2 linked regions of the Homo sapiens genome follow. The protein of the gene in region 1 interacts with the protein of each later gene in a pairwise test. Each region holds a gene or a part of one and is shown in the gene's direction. Other genes may lie near its edges.

Region 1 (16,257 bases):
TAAAAAAGTGCCATGACACCAGAAATAAACACCTAGAAGAACAAGTGAAACACATATCTAAGCAGGCACTTTACTGTTTTAAATAAGCACATATCTACTTTTTTAAAAAAATTTGAAGGTATCTCTATCAATCAGCAATGCATTTATTGCAAGTTTTCCATAGATTCCCTACCCTGTGCTATCGGTTGTAGGAAAATTTAAGTAAGGAGGAGGAGGTAGGTAGAGGAAATAGAAAAAGAGAGAGAGAAAGCACCTTTGACTCCCAAAGCTATCACTCTCAATTCAAATTCATTTGTATTCAATCAATGTGTATTAAACTTCCACCTTGCAGCATGGATCGTGCTCAATGATGGAAATACTGGTGGGAACATCATAGATACAGTCCCTCCCCTAAAAGCTCATAGTCTCATAGTGGATACAGACACAGAGCTAGGTAGTGACAATATTACAGGGAAAGGACAGAGAACAGTAGGAACACCTAGTGGGGCACCCAAGGCAGATTTTGTAAGTCAGAGAAGGCTGCCAGGAGGAAGTGAAATCTAAACCGAGATGAAGAAAGAAATTTTTGTCAAAAGAAGATTGGAAGAAAGAATCTCAGCAGAGGAAACATAAGCAGTAACATAAGAAACAGCACAGGCTCTCAATGAGGCAGAGTATAGTTAAAAACAAACAAATAGGCCAGGCAGGATGGCTCACGCCTATAATCCCAGCACTTTGGGAGGCTGAGGCAGGCAGATCACTTGAGGTCAGGAGTTCATGTCTTGCCTGGCCAACATGGTGAAACCCTGTCTCTACTAAAAATACAAAAATTAACCAGGAGTGGTGATGGGCGCCTGTAATCCCAGCTACTCCAGAGGCTGAGGCAAGAGAATTGCTGGAACCTGGGAGGTGGAGGTTGCAGTGAGCCGAGGTCACACCACTGCTCTCCAGCCTGGGCGACAGAGCAAGACTCTGCCTCAAAAACAAACAAACAAACAAACAAACATACAAACAAGCTTAATCAGAAAGGCTGAAGCAAGAAGCAAGAGGGCAGGTAGCAAAAGATAAGGTGGAGCAGTAAACAAGGGCAAGATCATGAATCTGCCATATGGTTGTTCAATATTTTCCTGAGGGCAACAGAGAGTTACTGAGAGTTTCAAGCAGGGAAGTGACCTAAAAAATGTACATTTTAGAAATCACTCTGTATACAGTACAGGGAGATGACCACGGGGAACAACAATGTTGGGGTTGGGGGAATAATTCGTAGCCAACTGCAGCAACGTAGATGGGAGTGCCTGGTGCCTGGGACTAAGGTGAGCTGTAGGAAGGGACTAAAGGGGACAGATGAGAAAGAATATGCATGAGGGAGACGTAACAGGAGTTGGACATGGCCATATGTAGCCCGGGGTAAGGGAAAAGTGATAGATAATGCCCAGGCACTGGCTTGCAAAACTGGGACGGTAACAGTGCCTATCAGCAAAATGAAAGACAAAAAGAAAAGCAAAAGAAGTGCTCAGAGCTTGGTACATCCTGGCCTTTCCATGTCTGTGGAACTGCCACAAGGATGTGTCTTCTAGGCAGTTAGATGTTTGGGTCTATAGTTCCATTAGGGAGTTATCAGATAGACATGGGATGAAAGCCAAAGAAGCAGACAAGATCACCTTCAATATGACTTTTCCAAAAGCCAGTCAATGAGGATGCATTGAGAAGAGAACGTGGAAACAGAAGAAGTCCTGAAGAAAACCACTATTGAAAGAAGTTAAAGGAAATCAGTCCACAAAATGTTGTAAGATGAATAGCCAGAGAGGTTGAAGGAAACCAGGAGAGTGAATGTAGTACAATGGAAGGAAAGGAAGAGCCTAGCTCAACAAGGAAGAAGTTGTCATCTGTGCACATGCTTCTCAGAAGTAAGGTAAGAACCCAAAAACATCCATCACATTCAATGCTGATGAGATCACTGTTCCCCTTGGTGAGAGCTGCTCAGTGATGGAGCGATGGTTGCACAAGACAGCCTGTGGTGGATTGGGATAAACTGCAAGATGGGAGAGTATCTCAAGGGAGAGGTACAGTTAGGAGATGTTTTTACGATGTGAGAGACAAATATGACTCCATGCAACTGGGAAGCAGTTAGGAGAATAGGTGGGGTTATATACGAAGGTGGAGAGAGGGGTTTTATTAAAATTGTGAGGTCCTTGAGAGGGCACAAACAGGTGGCATTCAGAGCCCAGGTTGATGTACTTGTCTTTGCCAGGATGGGGCCAGCAAAGGCACTAACAGAAGGGCAATCCAGATGCAACACAAAGAGCATAAAAGTTACTCTTTGCAGAGACAGAACCAAGATTTTCATAATCAGTCAATCAGTAGCCTAAAAGGGAATTTGATACCTAGGAACAGAAAGTTTTCCTGTTTATGCAGGTTTCTGCTCTAACCACAGCCTATGAGCACAGTGGGCGGGGGCACGGAGTTTGAGCAAGGAGAAAAAAAGATAAAGCCTCAGCTCTACCATGCACCTGCAATATGACTTTTAAACAAGCCACTTGACTTCACAATGCAAACTGATACCTTTATTTACCAGCTTCGTATGAGCAAGTCTAAAATGAGTCTCACTGCTGTTGAAATGAACCAGAGGATGTCTAGAGAATGAAATTCCAAGTATTTATTAAGTGCCTACTCCTCAAGGGCTGTCCCTGTACTTAAGAAGAATATTTTTTTTGTTACATTTGAGTAGCATTTGACTTGTAATTACTACACAGCATCCAAAATGCCTGGAAAGACTGTTCAAAATGCAAATTTCCTAGAGCCAATCCTAAGATTAAGTTTCAGTAGCTTGGGAATAGAGCCTGGGAATCTGCATTTTTATCAGGTTCCCTGATGATGCTAGAGGACCATTTGGAAACCCAACACTATACATCACATAGCACACCTTCCCACACATTGTCTAATTTAATACATGTGTAGGGTATTGAAGCGTTCAAATTAGAGAAAGCTGAAACAAACACAAATACCGACACCTCACTAACTAAAACAGAGACCATTATTCACGTGCGCCTTGAGTCAGGCAAGGTGTATTTATTGAGTGCACATTGCACCAAACCCTATACTTGGCAAAGAGAATATGGACTTGAATTCGATTTTGGACTTTTCTTCAAATATTCTTTAGTCTATTAATAAGGAAAAAGAGGAACGTCAACCCATGATGCCAGCTCAATTTGATAAGTGTTTTGACAAATTTCTGACATATCTTGTGTCCAATATACAGATGGTGCTATGGAAGCATAAAGGAGGGTCTCAATTAGAGTGGGCTGAGGGGACAGATATATTGGAGGGGCTGACGCTTGATAACCTGGGTTATTAATTTTGAGTGGAGGTTAGATCAGACAGGCAGGGAAAGACATTCCAGAGAAAAAGAAGAGTAAGCAGTGTGTCTGTAATAGTGACCCATGCCTACCCAGGAAAGTTCAACCATCACTCATATGGGGAAGTGGGCCCAAACAAAAGGCATGAACTATCCTAAAATTGGGAGAGAACACAGAGAAAAATGAATGCTAGGTGAAGATATCTTTGTATAATCCACAAAAAAATAAAATATTAAACCAATTAGTGCTAAAGGTTTTACCCAGGGAGCATTCATGAGTCTTTAATGGTTCGCTGATAAGAAGCCACAAAAGACACTTTAATATGAACACTCAGTTATGGGAAGGAAATTAGAGAACATGGAAATGTGGAAGCCAAACTTGGAAATGGGCACTGAAGAGGAAATTGATAGCCAGAGTGTCAATGCATGCATGCGGGTTAAGGGAAGCAGGATACCAGCTGCAAGAAGTTTACTGGGAGGGGTTTCCCACGCCATTGTTGTGGTCTACAAAAGTAGAAAGCAGGTAAGATGTTCAGAGAGCTGGGTAAGTTAGTCACATGGAAGCTGTGAAAATTTCTAGAACAAATAGTAGGGAGATATGGGGTAGTACCTAGAGGGGAGAGAAGTGTTCATTAGTGATTTCTTTACATTCTAGGTGATGTGAACCTGCTGAAATGCTGCAGGGATTTCAGGCAAGTTAGCCTTGGCAGTGAGAACAGATACAAAGAGAGAAGGAGGTAGGAGGTGTGTGTGGGGACGGGGGAAGTGGGGGAGATTTTTATTGTTCTGAGATAGGTCTAAAATGAAGGACAGTATATCAGTCAGTACAGGCTAACTGCTATAATAAATAACCACACAATTTTGGAGTGGCTTAACCCAAGAAGATTTATTTCTTCACAGTCCAATGCAGTTTTCTTGGGAGGGGAAATTATCAGCTCTACACAGTCATTCAGGAGCTCCGGCCTTCTTCCATCTAGTGGCTCCTCCATCTCTTAGATCCTAGGAGTCCTACCATGAATCCTCTACAAATGGCCAAATTGGCAAAAGAAAGCTCTGGAAGATTGTGTTAATAATAGTTTCAGTTTCAGGAGCTTTCAGGAGCGGCACCTGGGAGTGGCTTATTCTACTTCCACCCACATTCCATTTGCCAGAACTCAGTCACAGGGCATGGGGCAAATGACTGCAGGCATGCTGGGACTTGTCATTTAGCTGGGTGCCCAGAAGGAAGGGAAATGGGATTGGTGAAGCCATATAACCATCTCTAATCCAGATGGACACAGAGTATTCTTTAGCTCAGACCAGGGTGAGTATGTTAACTGCCTAAGGCAGTGAAGGACAGGAGATGGAACAGTTCATTTCATTAAAGGATAAAGTGGGGCATATAATTTTCCTGAACCCTTACTCCAAGCTCCAAGGCCAATTTTAAAGGATGACAGTTTGAGCCAAGGACCTGTTCAGTAAAATTTGGAGTAAAGCTTTTCAAATAGTGCCAAAGAAGCAACCAAAAACAAAAAAAAAAAAAGAGAGAGAGAGGATACATCAGATGGCACCAGCAGAAAAGATCACATACATTTGATTGACTCCTAATCACTCCCCTGTAACTTTTTTCCCCACACAAATTCCTCACACCGGAAATGTTCATTTAAAACAATTAAAAATCCTTCAGGGAACCCCCACCCCACTCCCTGCTACCACATGATCAGCCCAGGGGCTCACATGCTGAAATCTATAGAGAGCTTTAGGTCTCAGAGTATTTGAAGGATAGGCAGGGATCTCACCACCTTAACACAGAAGCAGTCCTACACCCCAATCAGGGAAAGCCTTGGACACTATCTATTGCTACCTTTAGCCTGGGGCAAAGGAGAAAGAGAACTGCACAGCTGTCCTAAACAAGTAGGGTATGAGACCTCTCTCTTCCACCAAGAATAATAATAAGATAGCCTTGATTGAAAACTCACTGTGCGTCAGACACTATGCTTACATGTATGAACTCACAACAATTCAGTGAGGTAACCACTATTATTATCTCTTTTTTACAGATAAGGAAGTTTCCTGATGCCCACAAAGTTTAAATAACGGACTCGAGGTTACCCAGCAATAAATGTTGAAAAAGAGTTTAAATTAGTTGGCTTTCAGAGTTTGTGTTTTGGACAACTATATTCTACTTTGGACAGCACTGTATTTTCTCATTGTAAAAGCAGGCAGGATGGAGTAAAAAATAAAAGTCAAAACAATTTGAAAACAATATTTTGTGATGAACATAAAACATTTTCTACAATCAGCATCCTTCATTTGATTGTCTTACTTTATTATCTGGTAAGTGCCAAAAGAAGACAAAGTGTAGATGTATTTTCCTTAGTTTACTTTTAGCTCCCTTTATTTCAAGCCTCACAGTCAATGTGTTCCCTGCCTTATGTTTCAAGGGGGCTCCAGGGTATTTTTTCTCCCATGTGATTACAAAAGCAGTTAGCCGTTTAGCCTAGCAGGGGGAATGAGAGGAAACGGAGAGGCCAAAAATTTTAAACTTTAGGCACTATATCTCCAATAACTGACAACATTTTATCTTAATTATGCTTTATAGTATTGGAATACTAAACAAAGAGGAACGACCTGCTTACTCTGTAGTCTGGAGCAGAATGAAATAGAACACGTAGGGCAGAACACAACAAATGAGTTGTAAATGTCTGTGCACAAGGCTTGATCTTGGGGATGGAGGGAGGATATTTTTTAAGTTATTCAAACGCTGAGTTGCTTTCAAAGAGTTCTTCTCAGACATCAACAATGAACTCTTCAGATACCCTCATCCCAGACAGCCCTGAAGTCCAGTTTATAACAAGACCAATAACTCACTCCTTATCTCTAAAGCTACTTGTTCAATTCTCTTGACTTCAGGGCCAAAATGAGTTGTTTATTACTTATGGCAAGTATAAAAAAGGCCATCTCAACCTGTGGTCAGTTCCACGAATGGCAACTTGTTTTCTGATAACTTGCATGCACATGGACAATAGCCAAATTTCCAAAAAGATTTAGGTACATCAATTGTATACCGATGGTCATTTAAAACCATTTTTTCCAGCAATATTTTAGCATCTAATTTGATAAATCACTGCATTTGGAGGCTGTGGGGGTGTACAGAGACCTTCAGAAAGCAAACATAAACTGGAGGCTTGGCGGTTTGAAGATATTCAAGCAGAAAAGTCTAGCAAAGAAAAAGGGGGTTGTAATATGGATCAGTCTCCATGTAACCTTGAGCCAATCATCTAACTTCTCTGAAACACCAGTTTTCTCATTTTATGAAACAAGATTTTATTCAATAAACACTATAACTTAGTGAAAGACTGGATCTGGTATCCCGTAGGCTTGGATGGATTGCTGGTACTAGTATTGGAGCTTTTGTTTCCCTGTTTGTTACAATTCGGATATTAGTGAGTACCCTACAGAGGAATAATGATTAAATTGTCTACTTAATTTACTCTTAAGTGTCTGACCACGTATAAGTGGTCAATACAGGCTGTTTTCATTTTTACTATTACTGATGGAACACACTGCATGACTAGCATTGGGAAAGAGGCCCAGAATACAAGGTTGTGCAGAATGCAAAGTCTATTCTCAAGGAATTCGCTTTGTAGGGAAGAGGTGGGGGGTTCAAATAGGAAGTATCAAATTCCTCATTGGGAAAGAAAAGAGGCTTCATAGAAAAGCTGCTGGAGCCCAGGCTTAAAGATGAGTAGCATTGGGGCCAGAACCAGATGTCTAAGAACTCTTTGAGGCTTAATGTTAGGAACTTTTGAAACTATTGGTCTGGAATGTTGTATATATGAAGTTCATTTTTTCAGCATCCAATATTCAGAACACATTCATTCATTAACTTTCCATCCAGAAATGTAATCATTAACTACTGCTGGAGCCTCCTTTCCCACAAAACCAAACAAAACTTGCTTAGCAATCCCAATTCTGAGGCTTGGAAAACACTTTTACATCCTACTCTCTGCTTGCATGTATGAACTCACATACATGAGTTGTGAGGTACTCCTCCTATATTCAGAAAATTGGAGGCCAATATCATAGGCACAGCCAGGGAATGCACCGGCCAAAGCTCAGGCTTTTGGGTGGCATTTGACACCAAGCTCCTTTTAAATCGGGCATCAGCTCTGGGTCAGCAGCCTCACTCCAGTCAAAGAAGAGGAGCCAAACGTCGCAGGAGCAATTTCAAAGACGTCTGGGGAACGAAAAGGGTCTTCGATCCAAGGACCAGCCTAGGGGCCATCGGGAACCAAGGCTCTGGGGGATCCCAGCAGGGCCCAGACGCCCGCCTCGGGCAATGTCGCTGCCTGCCCCGGGCCGCTCGCAGTGCCTGGGCCATACTGGGGTGCCCTGGGGTTTCTTCTCCATACCCAGACTCAGCTTCCCCGCTGGAGTCTGTCTTCCTGGAACACGGAACGCGGGCGGGCTGTGTTCTCAGTCACAATCAGCTCGGATGAGCTGGGGGGCGCGGGCGCAAGCGGGCATCGGCACCTGGCAGAAAGCGCCGCGCCCCCCGCGGGTGCGCACACCTCCGCTCCCCGGGGCGGCGCGCGGTCGGGTGTGCGGGGTACGGGGCGGGGCGGAGCGGAGCAGAGCAAAGCGCACAGGAGGCCCGCCTCTGCTCCCCTCCCCCGCCGGCGAAGATTGACACAGCTCGAGCACCCGCCCCAACCAATGAGCGCGTCCTGGGGCGGGCCCTGGGACCGGCTGCTCCGGCTACTTAGAGTCGTCGGCGCGGCGGTGGGAAAGCAGAGCCGAGCCGGGACTGTCCAGTGGGAGCAGGCGCCCCGGCCAGCGCAGACCTGGAGGCGCACGGGCGCCGCACCGCACGATTCGGCTCGGGGTAGAGCGGAGCCGCAGCCCCACGCGCAGCCCAGGACCCACTCGCCACCGCCGCTTCCTCAGCACCCATGGGGACCAGGAGACTTTAAAGGAGTTTGGGGTTTCGGGAGCAGGGAAATCACGGGTAGGGAGAAGCGGCTTTCTTTGCCTTGGAAACGGTTTTTCTTCATCCGATTGTTTGGATCCTGTGCTGGGTAGGAGGGAGAGGGGTCTTTGGGCTAAAAGTGAACCTCTCTACACACACACGCTCCCACCCACACCCACACACATACACTGCACTGGCTTTCTCCATCCTTCCCCTGCCTCTTTGTTAGGTTATTTTAGACAGAGCAGCCTCGCCCTGGCGCAGTCCCATTGGCCCTGATGGGGACAAGGCAAGAGAAGTAAGGGGCAGAGTGCACCTGCCTGTGAGGGCAGGTGTGCCCGGGTGCTTGGGCGTACGTGCAACGGCGAGCGTGCAAGCGTGGAGCTGAAATTGTGTACGAATGTGTGGGGTCTAAGTGTGCCAGTGTGTCGTCGCGAAGGTTTGTCATTGTGGGTGTATGTGACATACACCAGTATACCAGGCTGCCAGTGTCTGGACTCCCAAGTGTCCAAAATGTTGCTGGTGTCAAGTGAATGCCTGAGAATGTGTCTGATTGTCATTGTGCGAGCCGCTGTAAGGGGAGGAAGGCAACCTAGTGCAAAACTGGGAGGTGGGCTGGAGAGGGTGGGGACAGAAATGGGAGCTTGCTCCCAGCTCACTGGCCTTAGGCTCCCTTCTCCCTTTCAGCCCACCCCTCGGTCCTTCCTGGGTGTCCGTCTCCCACACTGCCACAGCCAGCACTCTCCTCCCCACCGGGACCCCGCAAGCTCTCCAGCCAGCCTGGGTGTTTTCTTCTGGGAGTTGGACCGAGTTCCCGGAAGGGGTCGGAGGCTGTGTGGTGGCGTCTGCTCTCGCCTGACCTGTGGCGGCTTCTCCGCCCCTCGTACCCCTGGGGAGGCACGGAGGACTCGGCTGGAAAGGGTGACTCCGGTGAGGGCACGTAAGCTAGCCGGCAGGTCCCAGGGGCACTGCACGTCTTGGGGAGGGACACCGAAAGGGGCAGCCCGGACTCTGACGGTGTCTCTGCCTCTCTGTGCCTCCGCAGATCCCCGCTCCTGGCCCTCGCCTCGCCACCTCATTGATGGGCAACCAACTGGACCGCATCACCCACCTCAACTACAGCGAGTTGCCCACAGGGGACCCGTCGGGGATTGAAAAGGACGAACTGCGGGTCGGGGTTGCCTACTTCTTCTCGGATGATGAGGAAGACCTGGACGAACGCGGGCAGCCCGACAAGTTTGGCGTGAAGGCCCCCCCGGGTTGCACCCCCTGCCCGGAGAGCCCCAGCCGCCACCACCACCACCTGCTGCACCAGCTGGTCCTCAACGAGACTCAGTTTTCCGCCTTTCGGGGCCAGGAATGCATCTTTTCCAAAGTGAGCGGTGGCCCTCAGGGCGCCGACCTAAGCGTCTACGCGGTCACCGCGCTGCCAGCGCTCTGCGAACCCGGCGACCTGCTGGAGCTGCTGTGGCTGCAGCCCGCGCCGGAGCCGCCCGCGCCCGCCCCGCACTGGGCCGTCTACGTGGGCGGCGGGCAGATCATCCACCTGCACCAAGGCGAGATCCGCCAGGACAGCCTGTATGAGGCGGGCGCGGCCAACGTGGGCCGGGTGGTGAATAGCTGGTACCGCTACCGCCCGCTGGTGGCCGAGCTGGTGGTGCAGAACGCCTGCGGCCACCTGGGCCTCAAGAGCGAGGAGATCTGCTGGACGAACTCGGAGAGCTTCGCCGCCTGGTGCCGCTTTGGCAAGCGGGAGTTCAAGGCGGGAGGGGAGGTGCCGGCAGGCACGCAGCCCCCGCAGCAGCAGTACTATCTCAAGGTGCACCTGGGAGAGAACAAGGTCCACACCGCCAGGTTTCACAGCCTGGAAGACCTCATCCGCGAGAAGCGCCGTATCGACGCCAGCGGCCGCCTGCGAGTGCTCCAGGAGCTCGCCGACCTCGTGGACGACAAGGAGTAGCCGCCTAGGGGCTGCCGGCCCCTCTGCCTCCCCCGCACCTCGCTCCCTTCCCTTCCCCGCACCCGGACTTCGCAGTCAGCGGTTCTCAACCTCTGCCCCGCCCCGCCACGCGCGTCCGCCGCCGGTGGCCCGGGCCCGGGCTGCACCCCCGCATCCCCAAGCCAGCGGCAGGAAGTCTCAGGAACTGCCCCAGGGCCGAAAGGGCGCCGCTGCGAGCGCCTGGCTGACAGCCACAGCGGTGGTGACGGTGCTGGGAGACCCCGCGTGCGCTTTCCCCTTGAGATGTAAACCGGGAACGGGGAAGGGGCTGAGGGGAGAAAGGACATGGCCTTCCCCGCGAGTCCATGGCCAGTGACTGTGGCCCGACTCGAAAACAACCCTCTTCTCAAAAGGGACCATCACCGCCCCGAGCGTGCGCACACAGACCGGTCGGAGGCGAGAACTGGTCTCTACAGGGCACAGTTCAGCTCCTCTGTGGATGCGTCCCCAGATCGCAGGATTTCCAAGAAATCGAGCCTGTCCCTTGTGCACTTGGGAATAATTCCCCAAGACAGCACTTCGGGATTCCGGGTTATCCTGAGGCTGCCCGGGACTTTTCCAGCTCTCCAGCCCCAGGTCTCCTGACATTGTGTTCCAGGCTGCGGGCTAAGCCAGACAGTGTTTGCCTCCGGTTCTTTCCACCGTGGGAAGCGAACGCCACCCCCACCCGCCTTTGCCTGCGAGTCTCCCTCGCTGGCAGAAGGGAAGCCGGCCCGGTCCCGGGAGGAAGATGGCGCTGCGAATTCGGTGAGGACAGCCGGCCCCGCCCCCGACAAGGAGCTCGCTCGTTCACCTGGTGTCTGGGAACTTGAATGTGTGAAGGGCGCTTATTGTTCTGAACCCTTGATTGCTCCCTCCTCGGGCTGCATTTCAAAAATAGTCATATTTTTAAAGGAGTTGGAGGAGAGGGAGGGGGAGGACATGGCACCATTCCAGAAACCAGCATTGTTACAACACCATAGCCAGTATATTTAGTTTGGCTTTTCCTAACATAGAAATCTTCAAAGCTGGGGAAGTGGAAATAAAGTTTTAAAAATGAGAGAGCAGTTTTCCAACTATGTCAACAAAGCCTATCGTGTTGATGTTTTTATTGACCATTTTAGCAACAGGCTAATAAAATTTCAAATTGAAATTTTTATTTTCATGGCTTTAATCCATGATAGTTTAAATACTGGGGGCCATTAAGAGTGGATGTAGCTAAGAGCTTAGCTAACATTGCCTTTTCACTCTATTTTTCTCAGATATTGTAAGCATTCTGTTTTTCAATATTGTAGTTAATTTTTTGGCTTTCAACAGCAGCCCTAGTAATGGTGGAGTTGTTAATTAATGTGTATATTGTACTGAATTTCTGTCAGTTAAGGGGTTCACTGCTTTGGTGGAAATTGGTGGAAATTGCTAGCAGGTTCCACGATGTTTATTTTTTTCTCCATGTTGTATATCATTACCATTTCACATACGCGTTTCTATTTTTCTTCCTCTCCTCCTGATCTCCTTAAAAATGAATCTAGAGTTGGTGGCTTTTTCCCCCTCCTCTTTGGCCAGTTCCACAGTTCAGTTCTTCCTGAAAACAGGGATGATGAACTTGTAGGATCAGGACAAATGTGTGTTTTTCAAAAACTTAAGGCTGGGTGTGAAACACCTTCTGTGGACAAGGATTTGTAAACTTCTCTCCTCCCTCCAGCTGCGGCCCCAGCCTAACTGATAGTTACTTGATTCAGTGTGCTAGACACTTAAATAGCATCTATGTCTCTTTCAAGGGAATTTGTCAAATAATGCTGTTTAGCTAATTGTTGCAAGCAATTGCATATTAACAGCTGTGATTTTGTTGGACAGCAAGTATTATGGCCAAAGCCAGTTTCTTGGCATTTCAAAAATAATGCAATAAAAACTAGTTGAGGTTAGCTGAGGCTGGAAATGCCTTTTTCATGGTAAATGATTCACTTCTATATTTTTCTTTCTTTTTCTTTTTTTTTCTTTGGTTTTCATCCTGGATTCATCCCCTGATCTTAAATCAAAACGTCAGATCAATGAACTATGAACTAAAGTATTTTTCTTAAGCCTATTGAGTGATTTATTTTTTAAAAAATGTTTAAATGCATATGCTTTTCTTTCAGCACAAACAACAGCAAAAACTTTTGTAATAACTAACTTACCTTTGCATGTATGAAGAACTGAGTCATTTATTTCCCTAACTTACTCCTCTTTCAAGTAACAGGTGGCAGATCATAAAATGAATTCTTTATTGTATCTACACACTCCACATTCTTTACTGTGTCCTACTACTGTATCTTGGCTCCCTGCTGTATTAAACACCATCTTAAGCACTTGTTCCTGCAGGACTCCTTCTTGACATTTTGTCTCCCCCTTCAAAGTCACTCAAAGAGTGGGACTTCATCAAAAGAAATGAATTAGTCTCTATCACACCGAATACTAAGATTTATTTCCTCTGATGGTACATAGATTTCTCTCTCACTAAGAGGGTCACTCTCATAGAGGAATGTCTTGTCAGTTTTATACTTGCTGAGGCTAGACTGACAATAAAAATGAGCTGGGCAGTTAAATTAGCATTTGTTACTATATTGGCCTATAAAGGATCAGGTTGATGATAATACCTCTAAAAATATGCAATAATAAAACAATAGTTATGAAAGAAACTTGAAAGGTTTGCAAGGTTTCTCCTATCCCTGTTAAAATTATCATTTATTATCTCTTTGTCAGTGTTAGTAAGGTAACCCATGACAGAATAATTTGAGTGATAGTTCATCATGCAGAGGATATGATCAAGATATTACCTAATGGTTTTATCCTGAAAAAGGTGTATACTTTTAGGGCACTGTTAACAATGCGAGTGAAACCAAGATGGTGCAAGTTCCCTTTGCAGATGGCGTGGGCACACTTGATTTTTATTATGAGTGAATGTAATCTTTCTGTATTTTACCAGAGTTACAGCAATTACCTGAAAAGTTTCCTAACATTTTAATAATGTTAGGGATTTCGTTTTGGTTTTAGTTGTCCTCAAGAGACAACAGGTTCACAGTAATTTCCATGATGTTGGGTGTGGCTAAGCTGGGGATTGGTTCTGTTCCCCCTGCTCCCGTGTAGAGAAAAGCTATATTTATACTGCATTCTTTCTCAACTTTCAGGTAAAACAAACTATGATTTAAAAAAAGAAAAAAGAAAAGACAGGTACTTTTACTTCAAAGAGTGCTTTGCTACATTTTTATTTAAACCAAAAATCAAATAAAATAAGGAGGGGGGCTGGGTATACTTTAAACAAAACCAGTCCTGAAATGCTGTTATTCTCAAAGTACATTCCAAAAAAAAAAAAAAAAAAAAACTATAGAATTTACGTATGTTACATTTTTAAGTATGAGTTAAATTGATATAAAGTGTTCCTCAATATTTAATAATGTAAGCTGTTGTCATGACAGTATTTTTTAAAAATAATAACGTATATTATAGTTACGAAACACTTGTGCCAGATTAGAACATCAAGCACAGAAGCAGCTGTATGATTTACCTGTTTTTTTGAAACTTTAATGTTTACCTTCCCCTATGTTTAATTTTTCTGTGGTGAACACTTTTGTTAGAACATGGCTTTTTTATTTTTCTTGGAAAAATATGCTATTAGTATTTACAAAATAATTAATTACCTGAATAAGCAGTATATACTAAAAGTCTTCAAACATTACTTTATTGATTACTTATGTTTTGTGGTGCGCTTTCAACATCCCTAAGAGTTAAATGTCTTAGTCATCTAATACATGGAACAGGGTCAAACTTCAATGAAATTAATACTTATTGCACAATCATAATATAGCAACCTAATTTTCTTTTATTTATAGGCATATCTTTAAAGCTTTCTTCTCTTTTTTGAACAAATGAAGAGAATCCAGTTAGTTTTTGCCTTTCAGAGGTGATTTGCCACGTGCACAAAGGGTCTGTAGGTGAAAAGACAGGCTTTTGGGTTTCTTGAAACATCAAAAACTGAATTTAGAGAATGGTTATCTAACACTCAAGTCAATGTTTTTTTTGAAATTACTAGCTATTGGTATAATATACATATATGTACATGTATACATATACATACACACATATGTACATTTACACATATGTAAGTATACACTCATATACATATATACACATGTATATATACTTGTGTACACATACATTTTTGCCTATAGCTAGCAATTATTTCATTCAGATACACACACACACACACACACACACAGGCTACTTAAAATAGAGAGTGACTTGAGATATACAAAAACAGGAAGAAAAGCCCTGGAGGTCATATAGCTAATGTATAACTGCACAGCAAGCAGCTATGTCTAAAGCTAACAATAAAAAGAAAATGTGGGAGTTGTGCAATTAGTTTTATTCTCATTTTTTGGAAGAATATGTTCCTGGTTTCTCTAACTAAAAGGAAAAAATTCAAAGGAAAGTTGTAAATATTAGGAAGTAACTGAAAAATAAGAAGCAAGATAAAGTGGGGAGGCTATGAGATCATATAATGAGCTAATAAACTTTTCAACAGGGGACACCTGTTCTCCCTTCTAACTGAAGACACTAAAGAGAAGCTAAGATCCTATCTTTCAATCATTTAGTAATTCATAAAATCCCATTATTTCATAACTCAAAGTTTACCTTTGAGGTTGTATGTTTACCTCATTTGAACTCGAAATAGAAGAGGTTTAAGTATTTGAATAAGTTGGGAAAAAAAGGAAAAATAGTCTTCCCTGCCCTTGTCACTGATGGTGACACTACTTGTAATTACTGTATTTTTTGGCAGAACACTCAGATGAACAGATTCCTATGCTGTGGACTTTTATCATTCTTTTTGATGGCTGATAGTAGAAAGCACACAGTAGGTACTCCATAAATGTAAGACTATGGCAGCTGTCTAGTACAAGTGCTTCTCACTGATTCTTGGTTACCAGGAAAACCAGAAAGCCCGTCACTTGCCTTGCCTGCAAAGGCGAGCCTAAAGAAATTTCTCTAACCAAAATTGGCAGGTTCTTTCCACCACAAAAGGCTCTTGGAAATATAACTTATGGGGCTTAAGGCTAATTTGAGTTGAAGGGTATTTGTAATATTTGATTTGCTTTTAGCAGAGAAAACAATAAAAGAATCCAGGAAAAGTAGAAAATGTTCTCTTGTCATTTGGTCAGAAAGGGAAAAGCGAAGGGAAAAGCAAAATAGTTCCAACTGTAACTTTCACAACTTCATCTCTCATTCACCTCAAGGAGAGATTTTTCTCGCATGAAATCACAAGATTATTCCTTCAGAAGGAAGCTTATTGTAGCTCTTGCTAAAAATTTTCTTTGGTATATGGGAATAGATTTACTAGATGTACACTTAACTCTGGGAAAATTAGATTTGATGGAGTTTGGTCATGGGTGTTTTTCTAAATACACATTACTCATTTATATATTAAAATAATTGCTATGCCTCTTGGCTTTTATAATCCAGTTCTTAATATGAACATGAGTTCTGAACTTTATTTTGTCCAAAGGATAGATACTTATGAAATACTAGGTATGAATAGAGTCAGTGTCCTAAATTTCAAGCACAAAATGAATGCTTCAAAAGTTACTTTGAGCATCATTTAATGTTTCAAAAAATTGAAAAAGATCATATAAGGCTATTGCTTATATGTATCCTAAGGAAATTCTTGCCATCAATGGGTGATACAGACATTAATGTTCTATTTGAGAGCTTCTTTATTATAAGTACACTGACATTTACTTTAGCAAATAAGTTATTATTCTAAATTCAGTTATTTTCCCTGTGACAGCCCTGTGACATACCAGCTCTTTGCTCACTTCCAAGTCCACTGTAGATTTCAGATTCTGCAAGGGGGTGAGCAGATCTAGGGAGATCATACCCATGATGACTTTGTAAAACATCTCTCAACTCCCAACAGCACACGCACTTTATTTCTTCCCACCTTTCACTTCTCAGTGCAAGTGT
Region 2 (16,063 bases), on another chromosome or scaffold:
AGGGGGGGGATGGGGGCAGGGACAGATGGTGACAGGTGAATAGGCTGCTAGAGAAGAAGGCAGAGCCAGGTTGTGCAGGGAGTATAACCCATGCTGAAGATTTAGATTTCATCTCAAGAGCATTCAGAGGCTGCTGAAGAATCTAAGCTAGAACTGGTGCTTTTGAAGCTCACTTAGGTGCTGTATGGAGAAAGGACTGGAATAGCGTGAAATGGGTGGAGGCCAGTGCCCAAGCTGTGGCCGGGTGCAGTGGCCCGGGCGAGACGGTAGCAGCATGCACCAGTGGAGAGGGATGGGATAGAAGTGGACAGTCTTAAGGGATATTTAGCAGACGAGGTCAATAGCACATGGTGATTGATTAGATATGGGGAATCTGGGCCAGGAGGGAAACAAGAATTTTATTTTATTTTAATTAATTAATTTATTTATTTAGAGACAGAGTCTCACTCTGTCACCTAGGCTGGAGAGCAGTGATGTGATCTTGGCTCACTGCAGCCTCTGCCTCCTGGGCTCAAGGGATCCTCCCAGGATCCCTCTCCTGCCTCAGCCTCCCGAGTAGCTGGAACTACAGGCACGTGCCACCATGCTCCACTAATTTTTGTATTTTTTGTGGAGACAGGGTTTCACCAGGTTGTCCAGGCTGGTCTCAAACTCCTAGATTCAAGCAATCAACCTGCCTCAGCCTCCCAGAGTGTCAGGATTATATACATAAAGTGCATTGGGAAACTCAGTTTTTCATCTGTAAAATGGGCAGAATAATGGTACCCATCTTATACGATGACTCTTAGATGTATGGCACATACATATTTAAAGAAGCATTTCATTATTTTTAATGACATGTATGCAGGAAAACCTTAGTGTTTCAGAATGAAAAATAAGAAAAATTAATTTGTTGTGTATAGAGCTCTAAATGTTTAAAGTTCTGTGTAAACTGTTAATCATGATTTTAGGAAAAGGTGGGCATATTCCATTGAAGTAAAAGGATCACATTTTATTCTGACCTGAATTTTATTCTTTATGTGAAAAATATTTATTAAACACTGAGTATAGGCCACTATTAGGCTAAGTATGGATAATTCAGCAAGTCATAGTTCTTAATCTCATAAATTTTACTATCTATTGGTTGCAATAGAGGGTAACTCAAAATACACACATCATTATATAATTATAATTGTATAAATGCTACAAAGGAAAAGTAAAGAGAATTATAGTTGGTAAGTGCTACAAAGAGGGGTACAATTTAACCTAGTTAAAAGATCAGGGGAGGCCAGGTGTGGTGGCTTACGCCTATAATCACAACACTTCGGGAGGCCGAGGCGGGTGGATAACGAGGTCAGGAGATTGAGACCATCCTGGCCAGAATGGTGAAACCCCGTCTCTACTAAAAGTACAAAAATTAGCTGGGTGTGGTGGCACACACCTATAGTCCCAGCTACTCGGGAGGCTGAGGCAGGAGAATGGCTTGAACCCGGAGATGGAGGTTGCAATGACCCAAGATTGCACCACGGCACTCCAGCCTGGGTGACAGAGCAAGACTCCATCTCAAAAAAAAAAAAAAAGAAAAGAAAAAAAAAAAAAGACTGGAGGAAACTGAAGGGGTAAAACCAGGAAAATGTAATACCACAAGTAACAAGAGAGTATTTCTAACCTCAGTACTGTCAAATACTGACAAGAACCACCCAAAATGAAGATCCATAAGGTCTTCTTTGGAATTAACAACATGTCGATTGTAGGGAATATTGGCAGAATGCCGCTATCAAAGCTCAGTTGGAGGCAGGTGGGATGTGAGAGTATGAAGACAGCAGATAAGAGCAACTCCTTCTAGTCATTTGAAAGATGAGAAGAATGTGGGAATGCTTCCATACCCCAGGGGTTGTTCAGCAGGGATGTTGAAGGTATGAGTGCACAGTGTTCCTGGGGAAGCAGGCAAGAAATGACAGAGCATGGAAAGGAGGGATACGTCTTTTCCTGACTGAGGGCGGAAGATAGAAAGAGTGGAAATACAGGTTGCTTTGGATCGCAAGAAATTGAGGTGAGAGAAACCCAGTTCCATCAGTTTCTATTTTCTTTGCAAAATAGGAGATGAGGTGTTCTGCTGGAAGTGAGAAGAAAGGCAGGAAGGTCGAAATCAAAAGACAGGAAGGTCAAAAGAATTAATGAGAAGAGTTCATATGGATACTGAGGCCAAGGGGAGAGTAAGGTGATGCAGAAAGCACCCTTCTGTGGTCTTCCTTCAAGGTGGTAATGTGTCTAGTTCAACACTAATCCAATAAGGCTGTTATCATCCCACTTTACAACAGCTGCCTCTAGAATTGGAAACAAAACTGTTAGTTACAATGCTGTAGTAGACACTATGGAAAACAGAAAGATGAGTAAACTCCAAACCCTCTGTAAAGAAGATGAAACCATAGCACCTCACACATTGGCTATCATAGCCTGGCCTATTTTAACTGATGTCCACAGCTTAAGAGGAAGACCCTCTCCTGACACTGCTTCTCTGGCCTAATAGATCTGAGGTGTGTCCCTTGCTGTGTCTGGGGGTTATATGAGGATGAGTCACTCCTAGTGTCCGAAGAGTAGACAGGGAGAGACAGAAGATGACATAATGGAGTCTAGAGAGAACTGACAACTGGGAGCTTCTGGGCACTCTCTGACAATGGTCCTCTGCTATAATTTAATTGTTCATTATGACCTGTTTCCCTCACAAGACCACAGTCTCCATGACGACAAGATCTTTATCTCATTCACTACTGAATGCCCCACACTTAACAGGGTCGCTAGGAAAATATTTATGAAATAAATACATCAATGACAAGTTTTTTAGAGGCTATTGCTTATTTTGTTGAGAACCTGTTGTCTCAAAGAATGACCCTAAATGGAACCAAATAAATGCATCACTCTTCTTTTTTATGGTCTCTTCCTCTGATAGGTAAAAGCAGAGTTGTTAGAAACATTTGTCTTTGATTCCTCCTTAGGATTCAGCCCTGATGGAGGCTGAGGAGGCCCAGCGTGGAGCCTCTCCTCCCATCTCTGCCATAGAGGAATTCAGCATTATCCCTGAGGCTCCCATGAGGAGCAGCCAGGTCTCTGCCTTGGGGCTTGAAGCTCAAGAAGATGAGGACCCATCCTATAAGTGGAGAGAGGAACACAGACTCTCAGCAACTCAGCAGAGTGAGTTAAGGGATGTGTGTGACTATGCGATTGAGACGATGCCCTCTTTTCCCAAGGAAGGTTCTGCAGATGTGGAGCCCAATCAGGAAAGCCTTGTGGCTGAGGCCTGTGACACTCCGGAACACTGGGAGGCAGTACCCCAGAGCCTAGCAGGCCGACAAGCAAGGACTCTAGCTCCCCCAGAGCTCTGGGCCTGCCCCATTCAGAGTGAGCATCTAGACATGGCCCCATTTTCCAGTGACCTGGGAAGCGAAGAAGAGGAGGTGGAATTTTGGCCAGGACTTACTTCTTTGACATTGGGATCTGGACAGGCAGAAGAAGAAGAGGAAACCTCTTCAGATAACTCTGGTCAGACCAGATATTATTCTCCCTGCGAAGAGCATCCTGCAGAGACCAACCAGAATGAAGGCTCTGAAAGTGGGACTATCAGGCAGGGGGAAGAGCTGCCACCTGAGGAGCTGCAGGAAAGTCAAGGGCTCTTGCATCCCCAGGAGGTCCAAGTTCTGGAGGAGCAGGGACAGCAGGAAGCAGGATTTCGGGGGGAAGGAACTCTGAGGGAGGATGTTTGTGCCGATGGGCTATTAGGGGAGGAACAGATGATAGAGCAGGTTAATGATGAAAAGGGAGAACAGAAGCAAAAACAGGAACAGGTACAAGATGTGATGCTTGGGAGACAAGGAGAAAGAATGGGGCTCACTGGGGAGCCAGAGGGTCTGAATGACGGTGAGTGGGAGCAGGAGGATATGGAGAGGAAGGCTCAGGGTCAGGGAGGTCCAGAACAGGGAGAAGAGAGGAAGAGGGAGCTGCAGGTGCCAGAAGAGAATAGGGCGGACTCTCAGGACGAAAAGAGTCAAACCTTTTTGGGAAAATCAGAGGAAGTAACTGGAAAGCAAGAAGATCATGGTATAAAGGAGAAAGGGGTGCCAGTCAGCGGGCAGGAGGCGAAAGAGCCAGAGAGTTGGGATGGGGGCAGGCTGGGGGCAGTGGGAAGAGCGAGGAGCAGGGAAGAGGAGAATGAGCATCATGGGCCTTCAATGCCCGCTCTGATAGCCCCTGAGGACTCTCCTCACTGTGACCTGTTTCCAGGTGCCTCATATCTCATGACTCAGATTCCCGGGACTCAGACAGAGTCCAGGGCTGAGGAACTGTCCCCCGCAGCTCTGTCTCCCTCGCTAGAGCCCATCAGGTGCTCTCACCAGCCCATTTCTCTACTGGGCTCCTTTTTGACTGAGGAGTCACCTGACAAGGAAATAGATCAAAACAGCCAGCAAGAGGAATCCAGGCTGAGGAAGGGAACAGTGTCCAGCCAAGGGACTGAGGTGGTCTTTGCCAGTGCATCTGTGACTCCTCCAAGGACACCAGATTCAGCTCCTCCCAGTCCTGCTGAAGCCTACCCCATCACACCTGCCTCGGTATCTGCCAGGCCCCCAGTTGCCTTTCCCAGGAGGGAAACCTCTTGTGCTGCACGTGCTCCAGAAACTGCCAGTGCCCCTCTCTCAATGGATGACCCATCTCCCTGTGGGACTTCTGAGATGTGCCCGGCTGCCCTCTATGGCTTCCCCTCCACCGGGACCAGCCCTCCGAGGCCCCCAGCCAACTCCACAGGCACCGTCCAGCACTTACGGAGTGACTCCTTCCCTGGTTCTCACAGGACAGAGCAGACTCCAGACCTGGTGGGAATGTTGCTTTCCTACTCCCACTCAGAGCTGCCCCAGAGGCCCCCCAAACCTGCCATCTACAGCTCTGTGACCCCAAGAAGGGACAGAAGGAGTGGTAGGGACTACAGCACCGTTTCAGCATCCCCTACTGCCTTATCCACGCTGAAGCAGGACTCTCAAGAATCCATCTCAAATCTAGAGAGACCCAGCAGTCCTCCCAGCATCCAGCCCTGGGTCTCCCCACATAATCCAGCCTTTGCCACAGAGTCTCCCGCCTACGGTTCTTCCCCATCCTTTGTCTCCATGGAGGATGTGAGGATCCACGAACCTCTGCCCCCTCCTCCCCCACAGAGGAGGGACACCCATCCCTCCGTGGTGGAGACAGATGGCCATGCTCGTGTAGTGGTTCCCACGCTGAAGCAGCATAGCCACCCTCCTCCATTGGCCCTAGGTTCAGGGCTGCATGCCCCCCATAAAGGCCCACTTCCCCAAGCCTCTGACCCCGCTGTGGCCAGGCAGCACCGACCTCTGCCATCTACCCCAGACAGCTCCCACCATGCTCAGGCCACCCCCAGGTGGAGATACAACAAGCCGCTACCCCCTACCCCTGATTTGCCGCAGCCCCACCTTCCTCCCATTTCTGCTCCTGGTAGCTCAAGGATCTACAGGCCTCTACCCCCACTACCCATCATAGACCCTCCCACCGAACCACCCCCATTGCCCCCAAAGTCCAGGGGGAGGAGCAGGAGCACTCGGGGAGGACATATGAACTCAGGGGGTCATGCCAAAACAAGACCTGCTTGTCAAGACTGGACAGTCCCCCTCCCTGCCTCTGCTGGACGCACCTCCTGGCCCCCGGCCACAGCTAGATCAACAGAGTCTTTCACTTCCACCAGCAGGAGTAAGAGCGAAGTGTCCCCTGGCATGGCTTTCAGCAACATGACAAACTTCCTATGCCCCTCTTCCCCTACCACTCCCTGGACTCCGGAGCTCCAGGGACCCACCTCTAAGGATGAAGCAGGGGTCTCAGAACACCCTGAGGCCCCTGCGAGAGAACCTTTGAGAAGGACAACCCCTCAGCAAGGAGCCAGTGGCCCAGGGAGGTCACCTGTGGGCCAAGCAAGGCAGCCAGAAAAACCCAGCCATCTGCACCTGGAGAAGGCGTCCAGCTGGCCCCACAGGCGGGACTCAGGGAGGCCACCAGGGGACAGCAGTGGACAGGCTGTGGCTCCTAGTGAGGGGGCCAACAAGCACAAGGGCTGGAGCCGGCAGGGCCTGCGCAGACCTTCCATCTTGCCTGAGGGCTCTTCAGGTGAGCAAGAACCGGGACCACAGTGACACATCAGACCAAGCTTTTCCCAGCTCTTCCCACCTCATCCCATCTTCTGTCCCTAGGGTTCCTAACATTCTCTCTGCTGGCTTCGCTCACATGTGTGCCTAACCTCAACACAGAGAGAGCCCCGAAGTGCCCTCCAAGCTCCTTGGGATGCTCTTCCTTCTTCTTCCCCTCTATCTCCCTGTCTCTCCCTCAACCAGCACCTTCTTTGGATGTCCCAAGGTTATTTTGGACTCCCTTCTACTCTTCAGTTACAGTCCCTGCTTGCTCTCCTCCTGGGGAGTAGAAAAGGCCTTCTGTACTTGTCCCAGTCCCATCCTGACCCGTGGCTCGGGACGTCACTGGTACTGATCTCTTTCACGCTCTCTGCTTTGCCACTTTCTTCCCTCCCAGTTTCCCAATAAAGCCCATTTTCCCTTCTGGACCCCTGCATCTCCTGCTCTAGATCTTCTTTGGCTCTCTCTATCCCTCTGAAATCTCAGTTATCTTCCCCATTTCCACTTTTAGATTCAAGAGGTCCAGCCGTGGAGAAACATCCGGGACCCTCAGACACTGTTGTTTTTCGGTAAGTCACCCTCTCCCCTAACAGCCACACTGTACTCTCTTCACTTGGGATACTGAGAGTCCCCTAGTGAGGATTTCAGTTGATAAGGGTTCTGAGACCCCGAATGGCTCATTCCTGTTTCTTCTTGGTGTAAGGAGGAGAAGAGAGAGATGCCGGGATGCCAGCTTAGGGAGATTGTCTTTATCTACCTCATTCGGTCAGCCGAGCCTACGAGTCATCCATCTTCCCAAGCCCTATGGCTGTGAACTAAACCCCACAAAAGCTCCATGTTAGCCCAAGTGGGTCAAGTTGCAACTCTGTGCCTCTCCGGGGGATTTGGTCTTGACATCCCAGCACACATCCCAGAGGCTAGAGACTTTGTCCCCCACAGTCACCTGGGGTGCTCTGTGTCTAATGGCCAGTAGGTACCCCAGAGCCCTTCTTTACTCCACAGGGAGAAAAAACCAAAGGAGGTGATGGGAGGCTTTTCAAGACGCTGCTCCAAACTCATCAACTCCTGTGAGTACCTTGAAGTGGAACTATAGAACCAGGTGGGCATTCTGCCCAGCACTGGAGAGGGGCTTGTGGATGTCAGCAGTGGGGTGGGGATGTCCCTAGCGAGAAGGCATTGCAGAAGATCTGTTTCCCTGCCTCCGCTCACCGTCCCTTCTTCCTGCTTCTCTTCCTTCCCATGCTTCTTTGCCCTGCAGCCCAGCTGCTTTACCAGGAGTATAGTGATGTTGTCCTGAATAAGGAGATCCAGAGCCAGCAGCGGCTGGAGAGCCTGTCCGAGACACCCGGGCCTAGCTCTCCGCGGCAGCCTCGGAAGGCCCTGGTCTCCTCCGAGTCGTACCTGCAGCGGCTCTCCATGGCCTCCAGCGGCTCCCTCTGGCAGGAAATCCCCGTGGTGCGCAACAGCACCGTGCTGCTCTCCATGACCCATGAAGACCAAAAGCTGCAAGAGGTACTGGGCAGGCCACGGTGGGGAGGGGGCTACAGAAAAGATGACAAGGTCTTGTTTGCTAGCATCCTTCTCTCCTGCTCACCACTGCCACCAAGAGTCGGCTGTCCCCACCACACAGGCGCGTGTACATGCCACAGCTGTGGGTCATGTCCATTCTGAAGAAGTTGAATTGTTTTCTGGATTTCACCACCTCCCCTTTCATCCTCACCTCCTCATGCCATAGGCCACTTGCTCCTACCTGATGTTGGTCTGGGCTATACATGGTGGCCATTGCCTCTGAATTTGTGTGGAGGAATGTGGAGTTAATCCCATCATCACTGCTGTTTCAGGGTAGAGGAAAGCTTCCCTGTTCAACCAGGGTTTCAGGCTACACTACAGTTTTCCTCTTTAGCCAAGGCACATTCCGGGGCTCTTTGTTGGGTCCCTTGAAGAGGGCCCTTTGCAGCTGTCCTGTGGTCCATCAATCTAACAGGGGCCTTAGAGTGATCATCAGTCCCTGCTTGATTGTTACTCCCAACAGCAAGACTGAACTAGAGGCTGTTTGTCTGATTCTAAGCTATTACCATTAGTAAGTTTTACATGGAGAGCGCCTCTTATTAATTTGTCTGAAATATGGGGTAAAACCTTTCTTCCCAGAAAGACAGTATGGAACAATGGAATAGAATAATGTTTAAGAAATTAGGTTCTGGAAGAAATGACCTGGATATGAAAACCACTTTTTTTTAAAATTATTAATTTATTAGAGACAGGGTCTTGCTCTGTCACTCAGGCTGGAGTACAGTGGTACAATCATTGTTCACTGCAGCCTCAACCTCCTGGGCTCGAGCAATCCTCCCGCCTCAGCCTCCCAAGTAGCTAGGACTACAGGTATGTGCCACTATGCCTAGCTAATTTTTTAATTTTTTGAAAAGATGGTGTCTCACTATGTTGCCCAGTTGTCTCGAGCTCCTGGGCTGAAGCAATACTCCCGCCTCGGCCTCCCAAAGTGCTGGAATTACAGGCATGAGCCACTGAGCCCAGCCCCAGAGCCCACTTTAATATTTCCAATTTACCTTTGGCCAAATGACATTTGTAAAACTGAGATACAAACAGTTACTGCAAGGATCAAGAAACATGAATGCCTGGTACATAGTAATTTCTCAAAAAATGTTGACTTTTCATTTTAAGTAAGCCAGACCTAGGTTTGAAACATGACTTCACCATTTGCTAGCTTAGGCAGCCTTATAACATCACTAAATCTCAGTTTCCTCACTTGCAAATTGAGGATAATAATGCCTACCTTTCAGGGTTGCTGAATGGTTTAAATGAAATAATGCATATCTAATTTAGCAGTAATATTTGATGTATAGTTTGATAAATATTAGTGCCGTACTCTCTGCCTTTCAGAGGCAGGGAGGAGTAAAATTTGGGCCAGGAGGACTTATGGACAGACAATGCTTTTACCAAGTCAGAGAGAGAATACATTTTTAGACTTTGCAAAGTTCAGACTTGAGAGCCCTGTTGTGGCTGCAAATTTTTAAGCACAGAGAAGATATTTAGAAAATAACTCATCTTCCCCATATTTGTTGACCAAACAGTGGGAGATGACACGAGTTCTAGCTCTCTTTTACCAACTCCAGCATGCTGGGAAGTCCAGCAGGACTCCTATTCCAGCCCTGGTCTCATGTTTGTGAGAAGAAAGGGCTTTACATTTCTATCTCTTAAACACACATATTCATTTTATAAAGTAGTACCTCTGGGGTTCACAAAGTGCTTTCACAGGCTCCATTTCTTTCAACTGTTGCATCTTCCACAGTGAGATGGGGGTCACTATATCCACATAAAAGGACACGAAAAGTGAGATTCAGAGAGGTTAAATGAGCCACCCAAAGTCAGTCGTGTAGTGAATGTTAGAGCAAGGATGCAAATGAGCCTTCAGTGTCCCTGTTCAGGGTTGTTGTATGGGAGGGTCATCTGGCTGTGTCATTGGTCATCCAAGTCATCACCAGGGTGTGTCTCCTTTCTCTTTTCTATCCAGGCATCTCTCTTGAGGCCACATGCTTGGATGAAAAGCATGAGGAGCCCAGCTAGAGGCACGGTCATGAGTCATAGCGCCCCCTGCTGGAACCTCCAGACAAGTTCTCACATGCTGGGCATGCATTAAACCACAGCTGCGCCATCTTGTTCTCAGATATCCTGCTTCTGTCTCCTGCTTCTCGCGCCATCTTGTTCTCAGATATCCGGCTTCTGTCTCCTGCTTCTCATCTGTCCTCAAACCTCAAACTGAGCTCATCACCTTCATCCCCTAAATCTATGCCTTTTCAAAGTTCTCTGGCTCAGTAAATGACTCCATCATTCACCCAGGTGCCCGACTCAAAAAGCTTTTGCTGTGAGTACAAAACATTAGCTTTGAACCTTCCTTCTCTTTGAGGCCCCATTTCTAGCAAATAATCCAACCCTTCCAATTCTACCTCATAAATAATTATAAAATTAATCTACTTCTCTTCAGCTCCATGGCTATTCAGACCTTCATCTCTCATGTGGAATTATTACAACAGTTTCTTAACATGGATGGCTTTTGCTTCTTTTCATCTTTTCTTCTCATTCTGCTTAGAAATAACTTTATGAAAAACAGGCTGGGCGCAGCGGCTCACACCTGTAATCCCAGCACTTTGGGAAGCCGAGGCGGGTGGATCAACTGAGGTCAGGAGCTTGAGAACAGCCTGGCCAGTATGGTGAAACCCTGTCTCTACTAAAAATACAAAAATTAGCTGGGCGTGGTGGTGCATGCCTGTCATCCCAGCTACTCAGGAGGCTGAGGCAGGAAAATGGCTTGAACCTGGGATGCGGAGGTTGCAGTGGGCTGAGATCGTGCCACTGCACTCCAGCCTGGGTGACAGAGCAAGACTCCATCTCAATTCCAAAAAATAAAAAAAAATAACTTTATATAAAACAAATGTGGTCAAGTTATTCTCCTATGTAAAGCCTGTTTTCATTGTCCCATTGTCTTAAGTCCAAACAATTTTACATTGTTTACATTACCCTTCAGGCCTCCTCGACTGCTGCAGCTTCATCTCTGGCCACTACTGCTGTACACTTGGTTCAAAAAATGCTCAATTTATTTAGTTTAGTTAGTTTGTTTGTTTGTTTTGAGATGGGGTTTCACTCTGTCACCAGGCTGAAGTGCAGTGGTGCAATCTGGGATCACTGCAACCTCACCTCCCAGGCACAAGCAATCCTTCCGCCTCAGCCTCTCAAATAGCTGGGACTACATGTGCACGCCATCACATCCGGCTAATTTTTGTATTTTTTGTAGAGACAGGGTCTCTCTACGTCGCCCAGCCTGGTCCTGAACTCCCAGACTCAAGTGATGCACCCACCTCAGCCTCCCAAAGTGTTGGGATTACAGGCGTGAGCCACTGCACCCAGTCTATTTAGCTTTTTTAATATAAATTTCATTGTGTATATTAAAGATATACAACATGATGTTATGGGCTACATATAAATAGTAACAGAATTACCCTAGTGAAGCAAATTAACATATCCATCTCACTTTGTTACTCATTTTTTGTTCTTGTTTTTGTTATTTAGATTTCTTGAAAGCATATTTTTCTTTTATACCTTTGAAGGCCTGTACCTGTACCCTAGATTAAATCCTACTCAAATGCTCTTCCCCTCCCCGCAGATCAACTTAGGTTCTGGTGTGACTGTGAACCATAAAAGGATCTTGCTCACTGCTCTATCCCCAAAACATTACACAGTGGCTGGCATATTCCAGGGGGTAAATAAAATCCTTAATTAATCTTCCTCATCTCCAACCTCCTAGGTCAAATTTGAGCTGATTGTGTCAGAGGCCTCCTACCTGCGCAGTCTAAACATAGCTGTGGATCATTTCCAACTTTCAACTTCACTCCGGGCCACACTTTCCAACCAGGAGCACCAATGGCTCTTCTCTCGTTTACAGGATGTGCGAGACGTCAGCGCCACGTGAGACTCCCCTTCTCCTAAATACCACTCACTCAGCCTCACTGTTGTTAGGCTTTAAATGTTCCGTTATTTTTTTCCCCTCTTAGAAACCCTTTCATTTTCACAGTTATGGGAAGAAATTGGGCCTCAGTTTCTTCCATGATTCCCGATGGTTATAGGAAGAAGAATGGCAAGAAGAGGAGAGGGTCTGTGGGTGGATAGATCCATTAATGGATAAGTAAATGAGCAATGCTTCCTGGGTTGAGGTTTTGGATTACTGTGGTCATGCACTGCATTGGAGATGAGGTGGAAAAACCATCTAAAGATCAGAAAACCTGAACAGGGTCAAAAGAAGAATGAGAAATGGAATATTAGAATAAAAGTGTTAAATCAGGCTCAAACTCAGGACAGTTTTGGAGCGAATTCTAGTGCATAGCAAGGAGCACAGAGCAGAGAGTCAATAGAAGTTATTGGCTAATGGAGTGAAGAAGTCACCAGCTCAGTGTACACCAGGGGCCAGTCAGCTGTTTAGCTGAGGTCCAGAAGTCTCATGAGACTCGTTTAAATCCTGTACAGGTTCCTTTCAGACCTGGAAGAGAACTTTGAGAACAATATCTTCTCCTTCCAAGTATGTGACGTAGTCCTGAACCACGCCCCAGACTTCCGCCGGGTCTACCTGCCTTATGTCACCAACCAGACCTATCAGGAACGCACCTTCCAGAGCCTGATGTGAGACTCATCCCCCATTTAATCCCCATGTAGGCCCTGAGGTGACCATGCACCAGTCCCCAGCCCAGAGGGCTATCCCAAGAGCACACTTTCCCCATTCCGCCCTCTGTATTGGTTACCCCAGCATCACATCTGAGCGCCCTGTACATCAGCTCCCACCGCTCTTTCCCAGCCCACAGATACTCCACTGACCTCCCTTCCCCGCACCTTCACTGCATCCCCCATTGCTCCCCATATCCCCCCTCCCCTAAGGCTCACTCTCCGTGCAGGAATAGCAACAGCAATTTCCGGGAGGTCTTGGAGAAGCTGGAGAGCGACCCCGTCTGCCAGCGCCTTTCCCTCAAGTCCTTTCTGATTCTGCCCTTCCAACGCATCACCCGCCTCAAACTGCTGCTCCAGGTAGGGCAGATGCTACCTTGATCCTCTCCCCTTAACTCAAAGGGATGCCCTCAGGAAGACCCACAACAAAGGACCAACCATTCTTCTGCCAGGTGTCCACATCCTGTCTCCCTGCTGCCCACTGCCTGCTTGCTTGGAAATATTTGCTGCTAAAATGTGGTCCCTGGGCTTCTCCATTCACCAGCCCCCAATCATTTCTTCCTGTTTCCCATTTCTTCCTCCCATCTCACTCCTGCCTACTGTCTGTTCAATAGAACATTCTGAAGAGAACACAGCCTGGCTCCTCGGAGGAGGCAGAGGCCACGAAGGCACACCACGCCCTGGAGCAGGTAGGCAGCCACCACCTCCACTCTGACCCTCTGTGTGTTCTTCTCAGAGAGGTCTTTCCCACCTAGGCCCATGACTCCAGGGAGCATGGGAGGTGGGACCCTGTTGGGAGAGCTCAGCCACCTCCCTGCATCCGCCAAACTTCCAAACATACACACCCCACGGCCACCTCTCCCACGCCGAGCACACTCCACATCAAGGGACTGTGCCCTCTCCACCATCACCCCCCCATTCAGTCTCACTTTTACTCAGTTCAGGAATGTTCTGCCAAGTCATACAAAGTTGCCTAGGACTTGTGCTTGATACTGCCTGCCCAATTCCAGCCTGGGAAAAATGACTGAGGCTGTCATAACCTATTTCCAGATTGCTTGCAAGGGACTCAAAGGTCAAAGCCTCTAACACAGTGCCCTTCCCCTTTCCTCACTCTCTGCACCCCTAGCTGATCCGGGACTGCAATAACAATGTCCAGAGTATGCGACGGACAGAGGAACTAATCTACCTGAGCCAGAAGATTGAGTTTGAGTGCAAAGTGAGTCGGTCCCATGCACCCCATCCCTGCCCATGAACTCCCTTAACATGTCCTGCAGATCACCCCCTAACCTGGAACCACCTTGCTCACATTATCCCCAGCCCCTCCCCTCATTTCTGCCCACCTTCTATTCTGTCCTATTTCTGGGAGGCCTACTTGGGTCTCCAAGACATACTGCTAAGTGAAATGATGAAGGTAAAGAATTGTGTGTATATTATATCACCTTTGGTATAAAAGTGGGAGGATACAAATCTATACAGGTGTCTGCTTGTGTGTGCATAAGGAAACTCTGGAAGGAGAACAAGAAAAAAAGGAACAGTGGTTACCTGAGGACAAGGGGGGTGCATTTGAGAAATGGGCAAATGAGAGAGAACTTTTCAGGATGAGCCTTTATAAAAGAATGTTTTGGTGCTTGATTCATTTATTACTTTATCAAATCTCTTTCTAGTCTAATCAAACCCACATAAGATTGGATCCAAATTTAGAGCCAGCATCCCTCATTGAAATACAAATCTAAAATAGACATTCCACATTCAAATTCCAACTTAGAACAGATACTATCTTTTTTTTTTTTTTGACAGAGTCTCACTCTGTCGCCCCAGGCTAGAGTGCAGTGGTGCGATCTTGGCTCACTGCAACCTCCACCTCCCAGGTTCAAGCGATTCTCATGCCTTGGCCTCCCGAGTAGCTGGGATTCCAGGTCTGCACCACCATGTCTGGCTAATTTTAGTATTTTTAGTAGAGATGGGGTTTCACCATGTTGGCCAAGCTGATCTCCAACTCGTAGCCTCAAGTGATCCACCCACCTCTGCCTTCCAAAGTGCTGGGATTATAGGCGTGAGCCACCACGCTCGTGCTTAGAACACATACTATCTTTACACTCCTGAAAAAGAAGGAAAATCCCTTATTCACATACTAAGCATAGACCACACCCTCATCTTTAACCAAATTCCAGCTCCAAGACGCCCCACCTAGTTCTTCTCACCCCCATGTTTGATTCCAGCTGCTCACATATCTCTGGTATAAAAAATGGAATTGATACCAGACCTGCCTCTAATATTTTATTTTAACCTCTAAGACACATATAGTGTTCACTGACTTGTTCCATCACATACCCTGATTGGACTCTTCCATCCCTCCTTCAGTTCAGGCTTCTAGGGCAGAGCTGTCCCACACACTCACTATCCTGAGTTGGACCATAGGCATCTTCTATTTACCTGAGCATACAACCATGGGAGCCACACACCAGTGGACAGTGGTAGTTAGAGGGTTCAGAGAGAAAGAGAATCTAAGTGATGGGTTATGAGCCAGAAGGCAGATGTGGAAGAGATGCTTGTTCAAGTGGAACTTGCATGGAAGTGGCATGGGGAGGAGGGTGGGACTGGGAGCAAACCTCATGCTTCTCCCATCTGTGACACTGCCTTCTCTCTCTTCCTCTGCCCTGTAGATATTCCCGCTCATTTCTCAGTCACGCTGGCTGGTGAAAAGTGGGGAGCTGACAGCCTTGGAGTTCAGTGCTTCCCCAGGGCTACGAAGGAAGCTGAACACGCGTCCAGTCCACCTGCACCTCTTCAATGACTGTCTGCTGCTGTCTCGGCCCCGAGAGTCAGTGACTGGAGTGGCAGGCCAGGGCACAAGAGGGGAAGGGGATGAGGAAAGAGGGGGGTCTGAAAGGGAGAGAGAAGGGTCATGTTCCTAGAAGAGCCCTTCTCAATGGCTTAACCCATAGAGCCCAGGTCATAGCCTAGAGAAGAGAAAAACAAGCCCAAAGCAAAAAGGGGATCCCATCAAACTGTATCATGAGACCACATAGCAGGACATGTAATATGGTATAGACACAGAGCAAAATGTAGCAAATTAGCTTATCACATTCTCACATGAGTCTATTTGTGGCTTCTTTGGACTGGCCTCAACCTGCTATTCTAGAGATACTTAGCTAATTCCAGAGCTTAAGTCTCTGGTCTTAAGGTTCTTGGGAAATGTATATAAATTCCATCTCTTCACCTCTTTAAAGTGGTAATGTATCCACTGCACTAGGTGTGTGGTTTGCCAGACTAGGACAAATCCCTGAGGACCCTGGAGCTACCATCTTGGGAGCAAGTTAGGACCATCTTATGGTTTTTGTGGGAATTTGCAGGCTGTAGATGTAGGGATTTCGAACCCAAGGTTATGAGGGTAGGTGAAGTATGGAAACTCTAGAATCAGGTTGAAAAGATTTGTATTTTGCAGGGGTAGCCGATTCCTGGTATTTGACCATGCTCCCTTCTCCTCCATTCGGGGGGAAAAGTGTGAAATGAAGCTACATGGACCTCACAAAAACCTGTTCCGACTCTTTCTGCGGCAGAACACTCAGGGCGCCCAGGCCGAGTTCCTCTTCCGCACGGAGACTCAGTGAGATGGGGCTGGGCAGAGGAGCTGGGGGTGGGGGAAGATGGGCAGCCGAGAAAAGAAGTGAGACCAA

Evidence for each region.
Region 2: the proteins of LRATD1 (region 1) and ARHGEF5 interact in binary tests that used the Homo sapiens proteins (3 or more experiments, as listed by UniProt).

What each region holds. Positions count from the first base shown.
Region 1 is NC_000002.12:14,624,614-14,640,870, forward strand, and holds LRATD1 (protein LRATD1), read left to right. Parts: upstream 1-8,103; 5' UTR 8,104-8,324; intron 8,325-8,972; exon of another isoform or gene 8,973-9,215; intron 9,216-9,330; 5' UTR 9,331-9,366; coding exon 9,367-10,245; 3' UTR 10,246-15,428; downstream 15,429-16,257. UniProt on the Homo sapiens protein: May play a role in cell morphology and motility.
Region 2 is NC_000007.14:144,359,683-144,375,745, forward strand, and holds part of ARHGEF5 (rho guanine nucleotide exchange factor 5), read left to right. Parts: intron 1-2,975; 5' UTR 2,976-2,987; coding exon 2,988-6,141; intron 6,142-6,672; coding exon 6,673-6,730; intron 6,731-7,163; coding exon 7,164-7,228; intron 7,229-7,419; coding exon 7,420-7,673; intron 7,674-11,478; coding exon 11,479-11,639; intron 11,640-12,194; coding exon 12,195-12,347; intron 12,348-12,616; coding exon 12,617-12,746; intron 12,747-13,000; coding exon 13,001-13,075; intron 13,076-13,512; coding exon 13,513-13,602; intron 13,603-15,049; coding exon 15,050-15,207; intron 15,208-15,831; coding exon 15,832-15,993; intron 15,994-16,063. UniProt on the Homo sapiens protein: Guanine nucleotide exchange factor which activates Rho GTPases. Strongly activates RHOA. Also strongly activates RHOB, weakly activates RHOC and RHOG and shows no effect on RHOD, RHOV, RHOQ or RAC1.